4 linked regions of the Homo sapiens genome follow. The protein of the gene in region 2 purifies or fractionates together with the protein of the main gene of each other region. This does not show direct contact. Each region holds a gene or a part of one and is shown on either strand. Other genes may lie near its edges.

Region 1 (3,500 bases), on a different chromosome or scaffold from region 2:
ACCTAAACCTATTTTTCATTTTCCCCCAAACTCCCAGACCCAAAGTGAAATCATGCCTCTGGTACCACTAGGAAGTCAGCTAATAGGTAGAGCTGGGAAAAGAAAGGAGGACATAAATAGAGTTGCAGGTGTGGGAATCACCATGCCCAAAGAAGAAATGAAAGGATGAAACAATATCATTCCAGAAATACCCTTATATGGGTAAAGTACCAAATAACTTGAATAAGAAAAAAGCATAGATTTTAAAAATGACCACCATGCCTCTTTTTGAGAACTACAGGCAAGAAGACAAACACGCACACACCCTATCACCCCATCTTCCCTCCAGACGGTGTACGCCCACCTCCACAGGCATCGTTCCCATGTTCCTGAAGCCAAAGCAGCCAGATAGACTCACCCGGAACCACCAAGGATATACTTAATCTAGTGCTCACTGGCATATGACCACCCCCACAGATGCGTCCCATAAATACAGAGACACACCAATACAATAAGAGGGAGAGAGGCCAGAGGGTCCCATGATTTGAAGGCTTTGACAGAGGAAGGGGGCGGCAAATTAGGAAAGTGAGGCAATGCCCAGTTGAAGTGCTCTGCATACAACGGATATTTAATAAATGCTAGTGACTAAAAGAGCTTCTAGATGGAGAAGATGAAGGTATAAGAGAAAGAAAAACATAAAAAATGATCAGCAAAGCAATTGCAGGATGCCAGTAAGCCCAAGAATGGAGTGGGATACATCTTACTGAAAGAGGTGTCATCTGTCTAAAACAATTCACTTTGAAAGACAAGTAGGGAAATCACTTAGATCACTGCCAATTGAAACAGAGGCTGGTATCAATGTAAAAGTCTGTCATGGATGCACAGAAAAAGTCCTCTGAAACCATGCAACTTACCGATGAGCATCTCATACATGATCACCCCAAGCGACCACCAATCACAGAGCTTGTTGTACCCGGTCTGCATGAACACCTCAGGAGCAATGTAGTCAGGAGTGCCTACTGTGGAGAAGGCCTGAAACATGGACCACACATCAGCGAGGCCCAGCCAGGCAGGAGGTGCCCAGAGTTCTGTTCTAGAAACCAAAGGCTATGAGTAACATCAGAAGCTACCCCCAAGCTAAATAAGCAGGACTGCCCAGTAGCTTAATGGCAAGCTCGATTTCCCAAAGCACTTTCCAAAATGAACAATAAAGCTTTGTTCATGAGGCAGGAGACCCTTAACTATGAGTCACTAGGGCGAAGGCATCTGTGTCATAATAACTGGTATTACAATTTACTGAGCACCCATTAAGTACTAGGCTCTGTACTTAATATATATATTACATGAGTTTTATATATATATATAACTTCATATACATGAGTCCATTTAATCCTGACAAAACTTTTCCAAGGAGGACCTTATTAGCTTAACTTTGCAGATACAATTTGATGCTCAAAATGGCTTTGCCTGAGACCGCAGAACTAGTTAGGTGGTAGAGCCCAGTTTAAAAATTAAATATCTGGCCGGGAGTGGTGGTTCACGCCTGTAATCCCAGCACTTTGAGAGGCTGAGGTGGGCGGATCACGAGGTCAAGAGATGGAGACCATCCTGGCCAACATGGTGAAAACCCGTCTCTACTAAAAATACAAAAATTAGCTGGGCGTGGTGGTGTGCACCTGTAGTCCTAGCTTCTCGGGAGGCTGAGGCAGGAGAATCGCTTGAACCCGGGAGGCGGAGGTTGCAGTGAGCCGAGATCGTGCCACTGCACTCCAGCCTGGCGACAGAGTGAGACTCTGTCTCAAAAAAAAAAAAAAAAAAAAATAGGAATTATAGTATCTTACTCCAAACCATCCCTCTTTCTATGATACACATTCTTTGATTTGACACAATCATAAAGGGAAGCTATATGATCAAAAGCTAAAGTTATATCCTATAACTTAAACATTTATAAATACCTATTTACCAAACTTAATTGTTTTTGTATATAGTTCTTGGAGGAATGTTTTCTTTTTCTAAGAAATGGGGGTCTCCCTTTGTGGGCCCAGGCTGGAGTGCAGTGGCACGATGATGGCTCACCTCAAACTCCTAGGCTCAAGAGATCCTCCCACCTCAGCCACCATAGTAGCTAGGACCACAGGTGCATGCCACCACACCTGGCTAATTTTTTAATTTTTTTGTAGAGATGGGGTTTTGCCATCTTGCCCAGACTGGTCTTTAACTCCTGGCTCAAGTGATCCTCCCACCTCAGCCTCCCAAAGTGCTGGGATTACAGGTGTGAGCCACCGCACCTGACCAAGAGAAACATTTTCTGCATTCCAGTATTCTACTCTAACATACCAGGACTGCAAAATAAGAGGAGAAAGTACAATCAAAGCCTCCTAATGTACTTAACATTTGAGGGCTTCCATGTGTAAGGCTCTGATCTAGGTGCTTTAAATATTATATAATTTTTTAAATTACAGTTGTATTGTTTTTAAAACATGTATTATGAAATATTACAAACATACAGAAAAAAGGAACAGACAATACAATACAGACCCATTACCCACATTAAAAAGATTAATAATTTGCCATATTTGTCTCAGATCATTTGTCTTTTTTTTTTTTTTTGAGATGAACCACACCTGGCTAATTTTTTGTATTTTTAGTAGAGACAGGGTTTCACCACATTGGCCAGGCTGGTCACAAACTCCTGACCTCAAGTGATCCACCCACCTCAGCCTCCCAAAGTACTGGGATTACAGGAGTGAGCCACCGCAACCGGCCTTGTTTGTCTTAACATTCGTTTTGAGATTTATTCATGTAGCTCTAGTTCACTCATTTCTCTGCCGTATGCTATACTGTTATATAAATTAGTCACAATAGTTTTTATCCGTTCTTCTGTAATGGACAGTTACAGTGCTTCCAGTATTTCACTATGACAAATAACACCTGAATAAACATTCTTTTAATACCTTCTTGGGCACTGTGCAAGCATTCCTCTAGAGTATTAACTAGAATATTGCTGAGCCTTGGGTTATAAGCATTTAAACTTGAGGTATCTTCCATGTCCTCCAAAGTAGTTAGTCCCTATTTAAACCAACCCCGGTGGGGATTAGCTTCTGGTACTCCATATCTCATCAAGACTTGGCTTTGTCAGATTTTTTTTTATTTTTACCAATCTGATGAATATGAAATGGGATCTCTTTTTTTTTCTTTTTAAGAGATGGGGTCTTGCTCTGTCACCCGGGCTGGAGTGCAGTGGTATGATCATAGCTCACTGCAGCCTTGAAATCCTGGCCTCAAGGGATTCTCCTGCCTCAGCCTCCTGAGTAGCTGGGACTGTAGGGATGTGCCAGCATGGCTGGGATCTTGTTTTAATTTGCATTTACTTTATTTCAAGTAGGGTTGAGCACATATTCATATTTTAATTAGCCATCCAGGTTTTTATTATGAATTCCTATTCAGATCCTTTGTCCATTAGTATTTTTTAAGTTGTGTTGTCCTTTTTCTTATTGATTCATAGGAATTCTTTATGAATT
Region 2 (5,656 bases):
AATTATTACATATATGTAAATAATGATAACAGCATCTCACTGAGTCCTCTCAGCAAACTTGCGAGGTATGAATTATTATTATTGCAATCTCACAGATGAAGAAATGCAGGCATAGAAAGGTTAAATAATTTGTCTGCTGCCACACAGTTGGTAAATTGTGGAATAGAAATTCCCTGACACTACAAAATTTGGCATCTTTAAAAAAAAGTATTATTGGCCGGGCATGCTGGCTCACACCCATAATCCCAGCACTTTGGGAGGCCGAGGCGGGCGGATCACGAGGTCAGGAGATCGAGAACATCCTGACCTCGTGAAACTAGCTAACATGGTGAAACCCCGTCTCCACTAAAAATACAAAAAATTAGCCGGCCGCGGTGGTGGGCACCTGTAGTCCCAGCTACTCGGGAGGCTGAGGCAGGAGAATGGTGTGAACCTGGGAGGCGGAGCTTGCAGTGAGCCGAGATAGCGCCACTGCACTCCAGCCTGGGCGACAGAGACTCCATCTCAAAAAAAAAAAAAAAGTATTATTATTATTAATTTCTTTTTTAACTGTCCTGTGAGTGTAGTAAAAAATTTGGCATCTGAAAGCAAGGTGAGAAGGATACAAAGAACAGCACAGAACTTTAAATACAAGTGAAGAAAGTTTCAGAGAATCACTTTCATTTAAAAAATAATTAAATTTCAAACATATGTTGGTTTGTTTACTTGCATAAATTTTCATCTAACAAAATTAAAAGCAGCTATAGATATGATTGTTTAATTTGGTCCTTTTAGTATCTGGAAAAAAGCTCAAAGTCCTAATATGAACTCGATGTAACAGCTACAATTTCTTTTTTTTTTTTTAATATATATATATTTTTTTATTATACTTTAAGTTTTAGGGAACATGTGCACATTGTGCAGGTTAGTCACATATGTATACATGTGCCATGCTGGTGCGCTGCACCCACTAACTCGTCATCTAGCATTAGGTATATCTCCCAATGCTATCCCTCCCCGCTCCCCCGACCCCACCACAGTCCCCAGAGTGTGATAATCCCCTTCCTGTGTCCATGTGATCTCATTGTTCAATTCCCACCTATGAGTGAGAATATGTGGTGTTTGGTTTTTTGTTCTTGCGATAGTTTACTGAGAATGATGATTTCCAATTTCATCCATGTCCCTACAAAGGACATGAATTCATCATTTTTTATGGCTGCATGTAATAGCTACACTTTCTTTTCTTTTCTTTTTTTAAACAGTCTCACTCTGTCACCCAGGCTGGAGTGCAGTGACGTGATCTTGGCTCACTGAAACCTTCACCTCCCAGATTCAAGTGGTTCTCGTGCCTCAGCCTCCAGAGTAGCTGGGATTACAGGCGTGTGCCACCACGTGCAGGTAATTTTTGTATTTTTGGTAGAGACAGGGTTTCACCATTTTGGCCAGGCTGGTCTTGAAATTCTGGTCTCAAGTGCTCCGCCCTCCTCAGCCTCCCAAAGTGCTGGGATTACAGGTGTGAGCCACCACACCTGGCCAATAGCTACATTTCACAGATGTACGATACTACTATGTAGATAAACAGACCTAAGAGAAAAGTATTAACAAATCTAAAGCATAATATGAAGTAAACTTTATTCTTACCATTTTCCTTTTCGATGACAATGATGGCTCATTTATCTGGAACAAAAAGAGTTCAAATAGTTTTTCAAAGGCATGTGAAGCTACTTTGCAAATATTTTCATCCATTTGCATTTATAGCCCAACCTCAATTTTAAGAGGTTGATCCTCTACTTGACGGGTGTTTCTCATCCTTTTTTTGCCTAGGTTTTGAAGGGCCAGTGGAGAACTGAGAAGAGGGATAACTGTAATTCCCTGTCAATCAGGGCATAGAGAGGAGTAGGGAATACGGAGATGGTGGAAACTGTTAGATAAACCACTCTGAATTACCCTCAAATTTTATTTATTCTTGCCTCCCATTACTTTGCATGATTAAAGAGTTAGGACAATTACTCTATAAAATTAATAGAAAAAAGCCCTAGGCCATTACATCTTCTAACCTTTAGGAAGTTATAGCAACGTACAGACAGGCACAACTTTCAACATCAGGTGACTGAAGTCTAATTAGGCATTATGAAAAGTCTCATAGACATAAGTTTTTGTTGAGAAAGGAAAAAGAAATAAAAGTATTATGTTGATCATTCTATTCATATAGAATTTTTAAATATTAAGATTTAATAACTTATGCAACTAGCATAAATTTATGAGGAAGTATGTGTTTCACTATCTGGATTTCATACTGATTAGAATTAACATTTTTTACTTTGTACACAGAGATGTACATTTAAGAAATAAATTGTAACTTTAAGAAACAAAAATTTAATACATGTGAAGGTTACATAAAAAAACAAAAATGTAAGAAATATGCTTAAAATGCTAAGACACATTTTTAGAAATAACTTGAATCTATGTAGAGTTCTAGCAAGATAAATTATTTTGTGACAATCAAGCTAGGCATGGTGGCTTATGCCTGTAATCCCAGCACTTTGGGAGGCTGAGGGGAGAGGATTGCTTGAGGCCAGGAGTTTGAGACCAGCCTGAGCAACATAGCAAGACCCCGTCTCTACAAAAAATTTAAAATATATAGAGAGAGAGATCACATGGACACATGTCAAAGTCCTTTGTATAACATGTAGGTACTTGTTATAAAACTATTTTTTTCCATCAAGCACAGTGGCTTATACTTATAATCCCAACACTTTGGGAGGCTGAGGCAGGAGGATTGCTTGAGCCCAGAAGTTCGAGACCAGCCTGGGTAACATAGTGATACCCTGTCTCTACAAAAAATATTGAAAAATAGCCAGGTGTGGTGGTGTATGCCTGCAGTCCCAGCTACCTGGGAGGCTGAGGTGGGAAGATTGCTTGAGCCTGGGAGGTCAAAGCTGGAGTGAGCCATGATTGTGCCACCGTATTGCAGGCTGGGTGACAGAGTTAGACCCTTCCTCAAAACAAACCATCAACAACAACAACAACGACAACAAAACGATTTGTTTCCCATTCCACTAGGTGTAAAAAGAAAATCTAAGGCTGGGTGTGGTGGCTCACGCCTGTAATCCTATCACTCTGGGAGGCCAAGGCAGATGGATCACCAGAGGTCAGGAGCTCAAGATCAGCCTGGCCAACATGGCAAAACCCTGTCTCTACTAAATACAAAAATTAGCTGGGCATGGTGGCATGTGCCTGTAATCCCAGCTACTAGGGGGGCTGAGGCAGAAGGATCACTTGAACCTGGGAAGCGGAGGTTATAGTGAGCAGAGATTGTGCCACTGCACTCCAGCCTGGTGCCAGATATTGGGGGAAATTCATCCCCGATATTTCACATAGGTTCTTTTCTATATTCCCTAAGTGTCGGCCAGTCTGAGAAATAAAGGGAAAGAGTACAAAAGAGAGAAATTTTAAAGCTGGGTGTGCAGGGGAGACATCACATGTCGGCAGGTTCCGTGATGCCCCCGAGCCGTAAAACCAGCAAGTTTTTATTAGTGATTTTCAAAAGGGGAGGGAGTGTATGAATAGGGTGTGGGTCACAGAGATCACATGCTTTACAAGGTAATAAAATATCACAAGGCAAATGGAGGCAGGGCGAGATCACAGGCCACAGGACGGGGCAAAATTAAAATTGCTAATGAAGTTTCAGGCATGCATTGTCACTGATAACATCTTATCAGGAGACAGGGTTTGAGAGCAGACAACTGGTCTGACCAAAATTTATTAGGCGGGAATTTCCTCGTCCTAATAAGCCTGGGAGCACTACAGGAGACCAGGGCTTATTTCATCCCTTATCTATGATTGTAAAAGACAGCCATCCCCAAAGCGGCCATTTCAGAGGCCTACCCTCAGGGATGCATTCTCTTTCTCAGGGATGCTCCTTGCTGAGAAAAAGAATTCAGCGATATTTCTCCTATTTGCTTTTGAAAGAAGAGAAATATGGCTCTGTTCCGCCCAGCTCACAGGCAGCCAGAGTTTAAGGTTATCTCCCTTGTTCCCTGAACATTGCTGTTATCCTGTTCTTTTTTCAAGGTGCCCAGATTTCATATTGTTCAAACACACATGCTCTACAAACAATTTGTGCAGTTAACTCAATCATCACACGGTCCTGAGGCAACATACATCCTCCTCAGTTTATGAAGATGACGGGATTAAGAGATTAAAGACAGGCATAGGAAATCACAAGGGTATTGATTGGGGAAGTGATAAGTGTCCATGAAATCTTCACAATTTATGTTCAGAGACTGCAGTAAAGACAGGCATAAGAAATTATAAAAGTATTAATTTGGGGAATTAATAAATGTCCATGAAATCTTCACAATTTATGTTCTTCTGCCATGGCTTCAGCTGGTCCCTCTGTTTGGGGTCCCTGACTTCCCGCAACAGTGCCACTGCACTCTGGCAACAGAGTGAGACTCTGTCTCAAAAAAAAAAAAAAAAAGAAAGAAAAGAAAATTAAAAAAACCAAAAAACGGGCCAGGCATGGTGGCTCACACCTGTAATCCCAGCACTTTGGGATGCCAAGGCAGGTGGATTGCTTGAGTCCAGGAGTTTGAGACCAGCCTGGACAACATGGCAAATACTCATCTCTAAAGAAAAAAAAAATTAAAAAAATTTTAAAACCAAAGCGCTATTTGTTGCTATGCATCAGATTCAAGCAAAAGATTAAAAACAAAATACATATGTCAGTGTGTGCTGTTATAAGGACAGGATTTAATTTTTATTTATAGTTTTGCCCAATATATACCATGTGCAATTGTATAGTATCTAAGAAGTCTTAGGAAAAGTGGAAAAGCAAAAATTCATAATATAGTTAACTTAAAATTACAAAAAATTTTAAGGTAAATACTGAAAATTTCAGTGGCATAGGAGAGTCTACTATACACATATCCTTGGAAGAAGGCAAAATATCAACTTACTTCAGAGAATAATGTAGCCAGTGGAACATACTCTAACATTTGCTACTGTTCAACCAAAATAATTTTAGGTAGGGCTTTTATCTCATCCTTCAGTTATTATTATTTTATTCTTCTTATTGTTCTCATTATTATTTATTCTCATTATTATCCTATTAAGTTCTAGAAATATAAAAACAATGTAGGACTTCCATTCTCATTTTGGACCATACGTCTTCCTCAAATAAAGACAAATTATCAAAACCACTGGGCAAGTTTTCAGAGTATGTTCATTACAATTCAATCTCTCAATACTTAAAAAAAATCAAACATGGTTTACCACATTCTTATTTGGCTTTATTCAACTCACTGGGAGAAAGTAAATTGTAACATTTAAATGAAAAATTAGGAGCTTTTATTAAAGAATTAAGATTGTTCTCAAACTTAATGATGAGACACTTATTTTACTGAGTACACTCTTCTTCTTTGCAAAAATTCGGTAGCTGTATCTTTCCCTTAAGCTTCAGACAGACATAATAATGCAGCCAACAAACTATATATTACACATCTGGTGTCTACTTGCAATGTTATGTAACAGCCAAACACCAGAGTGGGTTATCCCAGTCAAAGCATGTCAGATATTGCACTAGGACTTTTGAATCTCAGACCATTGAAAAAAAAAAAAAGGAAGAAAGAAAAGATTTCTATGAAAGCTTTCTGTTTTGAGCGCTATACATTTT
Region 3 (3,500 bases), on a different chromosome or scaffold from region 2:
GCTGGCACTATCTCCCCTCCATGTCCTCCTCGTCCAACAACCAACATTACAGCCCCACCCTCTCTGGTTACCACAACTCTGGATCTTCACATGCCCTTACTTTGAGGCTCCAAGTACTTGCACTCACTGCTTTGCTTCACAACTCTTACAAATAGACCGTAAATCAATCTGTGTGATCCATGAAATAAATCAACTAAGAGTAGCAATATTTTTTTCTTTAAATGCATGTAGTGCTGGCCTGTGCTTAGGTGTGTGTGCTCAAAAATTAATTTTACCTTCATTTGGATTTCTTTTCTTCCGTCTGAAGTATCCACATAATAATATTTCACAAAGATAAATCATGATTGGAGGTATAGGGAGGGTGAATGGTAAGTAGTCCCTCAAATGACTGTTAAAGGAATGTTAGTACCAGATGAATTGGATTTTTCTTAGGTTTAAATAGACTGAAGGGACTTGGGTTCTGAAGTAGTCCTATTGTGCCCAGCATGGAACAAATTGCAACCACTGTTTTCCATGAAAACACTCTTGCCAGACGCTAAGTAGTGTATTTTCTCTGACTGAATTGGCATGTCCTTGAGAACAGCAGAAAGACTAAATAATTTGTAAGTGAAGTTTGTCTTCAACTGGTAAGGTTCAGTAGTATTTGTCAATTGCCATACCCTCACTTGATATCTTGCTTACTGCTCCCAATCTCTTTGGCATTGAGTTTTTCTATTATTTTCTCCTCCTGTCAGACCCAGGTAGAGTTTTTCTGATTAAGTAATACCAGTTCATGTTAGTGTTTAGTGGGTGAGGCTATGGAAGGAGAACTTTAAGAAAAAGTGTGTTTCTTCAAACTTTCTAAAAAGTACTTATAGACAAAACAGGTATTTTAAGCTATGTCTGGCACATCTTAGATTCTCAATAAATATTTGTTGAAGTAATAAATGTAGGAAGGGAAGGAGCATCATGATGGGTCATTAGGGGAGATGTTCTGGGACAGACGACCATTTCTGATTACTTATTCAGCGTGGGCTTTGTGTAAATGCAAGCTCAGCTCTATTGGTCCCCCTCACAAGGTGGATGTAGTCAAAGTTCAATTCCCTCTCCTGTCTGCTTAGATCAGAGAGACACACTTGCAGTCATTTCATTCAGGTTTAGCACGGGAATGTGATCTTCCAGATTTCCTATCCTTAATTATTTACAGATCTTATTTTCTTAGATGTTGTTTGTTTAATGTCCTGTTTCATGTCTTTGTAGTGGAATAAATCCTTTCCCTGGGTTCTAGACCTGGTTCTGCCAATTGCTTGTCATGTGATGTTGGGTAAGTAATTTAACCTTTCTGAGCCTAGTATATTCATCTGTGTAGTGGGTACATAAAAAGAACCTCCAAATCCTGTCTTACCTTTTCTTCTTAAAATTAGGTTGGTGTGAGTCTCAAATAAAGAGATAACAATAAAAGTGTTTTGCAAACAATGTGTTTTTGAAATGTAAGTATTATTAATTAAGGAATTTCATAGATCGAGCACTAAAGTATTCATGGCTCTAAGCAAACAAGAAGTACTCTTGCTCTCTGTATAGAATACACACATTCCCCATTTCCACCTGATTCCCATACTCTACAGAGTAAATTTTTTGTTTGTTTGTTTTTTGAGATGGAGTCTTGCTGCCATCCAGACTGGAGTGCAGTGGTGTGATCTCGACTCACTGCAACCTCCGCCTCCCAGGTTCAAGCAATTCTCCTGTCTCAGCCTCTCAAGTAGCTGGGACTACAGTTGCATGCCACCACGCCTGGCTCACTTTTGAATTTTTAGTAGAGACAAGGTTTCACCATGTTGCCCAGGCTGGTCTTGAACTGCTGAGCTCAAGTGATCCACCCACCTCGGCCTCTCAAAGTGTTGGGATTACAGGCATGAGCCGGGCACGGCTCAGAGTAAATATTAACCATGCTAATGGATGGGAACATAGTATCTGTTTATTATTTCCTTTGAAAACTTCAGTGACAGAATTTAGATAAGCCAATATTCAAAGTGTTACAAGACCCAAGGATCACTTCAAATGCATTAGAAATACCCACTGTTTTTCTTTTTATCTTTTTCTGTTTTAGTCTTTTCCTCACATTTAGATCTCTTTTCTTCTCCATTTGCTAAGTTTGCTGCCTCCCCCTCTATACCCACCCCCACTTCACCTCCAAACTGGGTTCTCAGCACTAAGATGGCCAGGCATGCTGTGCTCACATCCATCACATGAGGGCCCAGTCAGGCAGAAGAGTGGAGAGAAAATGCAGGGCTGGTTGGGAGACTGAAAATGTAGATACAGTTTGGTTGGGGGAAGCACATTTCAAAGATGATCCCTTGATCACCATTTCCACAACCTGACTTCAGGGCTCCTCAATACAACAGGAATAAACCTTGATTAGAGAGGTGATATGTAATCCTAAACCTTTCCAAACTCAACTCTAAATGCCATAATCTTTTGAGCCCTCAAGATCTCCACAAAGGACATTATAGTTCTTCTGTGTCCCTGGGCATGACTGGGATAAATTACCACTTTAAAACAACAAAATTTAACAGATTCTCCTATAAGCACAGAATTCTACAAACCAAAGAAACTGAGTTTTTAAACATATGGATAACATTTAGAAATACTTTAAAGTATAATAACTGGATCAAGTTAGTCTAAGAAATCCTATTTTTCCTAGAAGCCAAAAGTTTAGCATAAAAAAATTAGTATTGTACATATTTTCCCAAAATACTTTTATACAAAGGGCTCATGTAGACTGCAATAGAAAGGTGTGTTAACTAGAAATTTGAAAATAAACTGGTGTCCAGAAGGAAATAATGATTTCTTTAATTATATTTATATTTGGTTAATGGTATCACCTTTAAACTTTCACTCTAGCTACATCCCTTTCTCCCTGTTTCTTTCTTCTTCTGCCTCAGAACACACTACTTCTATTATATATGCGTTTTTTGATTGGGAACAAGTATCCAAAACCAACTTTAAGAGTCTATAAAAGGAATTTATTGGAAAAAGAAAAAAAGCAGCGATCATATGAAATTAGTAAGTTGAACAACGAAGCCTATGGGAACCAGGGTAGAATTTCAATAACAGGAATTCATAAACTCTTTCTGGGGCCCTGCATCAAAAAAGACTCAGTTATTAATAATCCCAGCTACAATTCAAATTTTAAATGATGAGAGAGAAAGAGAGAGATAAGAGAGAGACAGACAAAGGGAGAGAGGGACAGAGGGAGAGAGACAGAGAGAGAGAGAATGAGGATGAATGAATTTTATTGGTCCTGCTTGGGTCACCTAGCAACTGCCACAGGGCCGATATCTCTGACTGGAAAAAGGGCTGGGTGACATAGGTTAGAGACAATTTTGGTAAGCCCACACTTGTAAATCTAGTGAGAGGGTAAGTTGGTTGAGAATTAGTCTCCTGCATATATACCTATATGTCCACATAGTCCACATGTGGGTTAGCTACCCGAGTCAGAAGGAACTTATCTCAAGTGTGGT
Region 4 (3,500 bases), on a different chromosome or scaffold from region 2:
GGCTCAGATTCAAGAAAGATGGCACCCATCACTACCACCATATCCTCCCCTTGGTTATTTCACACTGTGATGTCAGATGAAAAGCAGTGAGGTATGAGGTAAAGAATTAGCATTCATACTCTCTCTGGGAACTGCCTGTGGAATTCCCTGAAAGACATATATATGAAAGTGGTTACCAGGAGTTGTTTTTCCTGGCACAATAGACTCTCATGGCTTACCTTTTAGTTTGCTAGTGAAAAGGATGTCAAAGACTATGATGGCTTTTATGCACAACAGCATTATAGGCGAACACATTAAGGAAGCTGATGCAAAGAGGAATAAGCCCTCTCACAAAATTTACTGGTTTCTGGCCCTTCTCAAAAACCCCTATTAATAGAATGTCATCCTCACTAATATCCACTAATAGTCCCTCAACACAAAAGCTCTCTGCCTCATAACTGAATGTATTCAATTAAATAGGTTACAATGGTTTCCTATTCAATTTCACAAATATTAATGAGGCCCTAATATATGTTAAACACCATTAGATGCTGAGAATAATTACTAAAACTCAAAAAAAAATCCTGCCTTCATGGAGCTCAAATTTTAGTGAAGGAAAGAGACAATAAGATAATAAGTAAAACAGAGATAAGTTGGATAGTGTTAAGTGCTAAGGAGAAACACAAGGATTGAGACAGCCTCTAATTTTGGAGAGACAGCCAAAGGAGGCCTCACTGAGAAAGTGGCATTTCAAAGAAGTCCTGACGAAGGAGCAGGAGTGAGCAGCGTGGATATCCTGTGGGAGGGAGAGTAATCTAGGCAGCAGGAACAAAGGCAAAGGCCCTCAGGATGGGAGTCTGGTGTGCTTAAGGAACAAGGAGGGCAGGGTAGCCAGAGAGGAATGAGTGCGGGGGAGGAGTAGGGGATGAGATCAGATCAGAGGTGACAGAAAGCAGACTGCACATAGCCTTGTAGACCATTCTACGTGACATGAAAAGCCACTAGAGCAGTGCCTTCCAGTAGGAATGCAATGTAATATAAATGTAAATTTACGTTACACAAATTTTTTGTAGTAACTTTTTTACAAAGAAAAAAGGAACAGGTGAAATTAATTTTAATATTTTATTTAACTTACCTAAAATATCATTTCAACATGTAATCAACAGTAAAAAATTAAGATATTTTGGATTCTATTTTTCATACTAAGTCTTTGAAATGCAGCATGTATTTTACACTTACAGCACATTTCAGTTTGAACACACCACGTTTCAAGCGCTCAATAACCATATAACTAAAGGCTATTGCACTGAACAGCACAGCACTAGAGAGTTTTGGGCCTTGGAGTGATATCATCTGATTTACATTTTAACCAGATTCCTCTGGGCCTATTTTCTCATATGTACAATGAAAATAATAACTTCTATTACATAGGAGTTTTGTGATGTCATCACAAATGATAATGTATATGAAGTTATTATATATATTACATATATGTTACATAGATAGAATATGAAGAATGAAATAATGTATATGAAGCACACAGCCTAGACCCTGGCACATAAATAAGTAATCAATAAACACTTTTTTTGTCTTCCTCCATATATTAGAAGCATATTAAGCTCTATGGGATTTTTAAATGCCAATCTTTGACAAAAATTAGAAATAATTTGATAATAATTAATACTTCTGAGCATTTATGACCTATAAACTGTGCTGTAAGATTGAGTATGCAAAGATGGGCAAAACATGTTATATCTGCCAGAAGGAAATAGAGATTAGTGAGGGAGATAAACACTTAACAACTCAACATAGTAAACAGAGTTAAGAATATATGAAATAAAAACTGACACCCCAAAGGAATTAAAGATTATAGAACCCAATTTACATTACACATAATGTCTATTATTTTCGCCCAATGTTTTGCTGTAATTTTTGGCTAAGTACTAAATTGGGCAGCTCTGGAAAATGCTGTGATTATTATTGTAAAAATTAATGATGCCTTATAAACTAAAACACTATTAAGGAATAGGTGTGCTATCTATTTATGAGTGGAGAAATTATATATAAATAAGAAACACTAGCTTGATTCAATATTATACAACATTTATTATACACCATATATCTGATGTTAGGTGTATTACATAGTACACCATAGGGATACATTAATGGTGCATACAAATGGAACATTCTTAAATTAGGCAGTGCTTGTATGCTCTCTTATTTGCCAAGAAAATTGTTTGAATCTCAATTTTCAAGCCTAAAACCAATATAAATTTCAAGTTGTAGACAGAATGTTCTAAAATCACATTAATTTAGCAATATCCTATGTATTAAAGTCTTAAAAATGTTTATTTCTTTCACCTAGTAATTCTACTTCTGGCAAGCTAGTGTATGCAGAAGAGGATTTTGCACAAGAATGTTCATTAAAACATTACTGACGTTGAAAATTGCGAAACAACCTAAATGTACAGCAATCAGGAAATTACTAAATTAACTAAGGCACAGTTACTTTATGAAATATTGCACTGACATTAAATTATGGTTGTGAGGTCTGAGTAAAACAGGGAAAAGTGTATCATATGCTAAGTGGGAAAAGTTGAATATCTGCAATATGATTACAATCATGTTTTTAAAAATTAAGTAGAAATAAGGGGAAGTAAATATATCAAAATGTGAGCAAGTTTACCAGAATATAGACGGACAATTGGATCATTAGTGTGCTTTTCCTTCTCTGGAAAATGTAAAAAAATATAAAAATAAAAAAAATTTAAAAAAGTAGTTGTAGCAAACTTGCATTACTTTTATAATAAAATTTAAAAATCACTTGTATTTTGGCAATAGAAAAACTAAAAGAAAGTAGAAATAGTTTCATTTTTTAAAATAACATAATATTGTCACCCGAATAAAGTACTCTCTAGATATAAAATAAGAACCATTACTATTTTGTTCATTTCTGAGGTGGAAGAAATATACACAGCAAGAAACTTTCCAGAGGTCCCTATGGGATATGAAATAAAGTGCAGACCTTAAGCTATTTACATACCTTACGAGAACCTGTATCTTAACATCTCTACCAGTGCTTTTTACATAAATACCCATTTTTGGAAATTCTTTTTTTAAATTAAATAACACTTGGTCATTGTAGAAAATCAGAAAATATATAAACATTTTTGAAATTAAAAATTACTTCATTACCCACAAATTACTACTGTTAACATTTTAGAGTACATGTTCACAGGCACACACACATACACACAAACAACTCTCATTATGTTCTCATTCTGTCTCCTAGCTTTAAATACTATCTATATGCTGATAACATCCAAATTTACATTTCCAGACCAGACCTTTCACTAATGCTAGACATAAAATCCAATTGCCTACTTGACATGTGCACTTTGATATCTAATGGACATCTCAAACTTAACATGCCCCAAACTGAACTGGTCTTCACCAGCAAGCCTGCTATTCCTGCAACTTTACCCATTTGTATTAGTTATCTATTGCTGTATAACAATTTA

The links. The genes of interacting proteins can lie anywhere in the genome.
Region 1: the proteins of MARVELD2 (region 2) and STK38 purify together in Homo sapiens (affinity purification with mass spectrometry; 2 studies listed by BioGRID and IntAct, with this or other methods). This does not show direct contact.
Region 3: the proteins of MARVELD2 (region 2) and GAP43 purify together in Homo sapiens (affinity purification with mass spectrometry; 2 studies listed by BioGRID and IntAct, with this or other methods). This does not show direct contact.
Region 4: the proteins of MARVELD2 (region 2) and SLC36A4 fractionate together in Homo sapiens (co-fractionation; one large-scale study listed by BioGRID). This does not show direct contact.

The regions. Positions count from the first base shown.
Region 1 is NC_000006.12:36,498,980-36,502,479, forward strand, and holds part of STK38 (serine/threonine-protein kinase 38), read right to left. Parts: intron 1,012-3,500; coding exon 894-1,011; intron 1-893. UniProt on the Homo sapiens protein: Serine/threonine-protein kinase that acts as a negative regulator of MAP3K1/2 signaling. Converts MAP3K2 from its phosphorylated form to its non-phosphorylated form and inhibits autophosphorylation of MAP3K2.
Region 2 is NC_000005.10:69,420,601-69,426,256, reverse strand, and holds part of MARVELD2 (MARVEL domain-containing protein 2), read right to left. Parts: intron 1,657-5,656; coding exon 1,621-1,656; intron 1-1,620. UniProt on the Homo sapiens protein: Plays a role in the formation of tricellular tight junctions and of epithelial barriers.
Region 3 is NC_000003.12:115,630,010-115,633,509, forward strand, and holds part of GAP43 (neuromodulin), read left to right. Parts: intron 1-3,500. UniProt on the Homo sapiens protein: This protein is associated with nerve growth. It is a major component of the motile 'growth cones' that form the tips of elongating axons. Plays a role in axonal and dendritic filopodia induction.
Region 4 is NC_000011.10:93,191,492-93,194,991, forward strand, and holds part of SLC36A4 (neutral amino acid uniporter 4), read right to left. Parts: intron 1-3,500.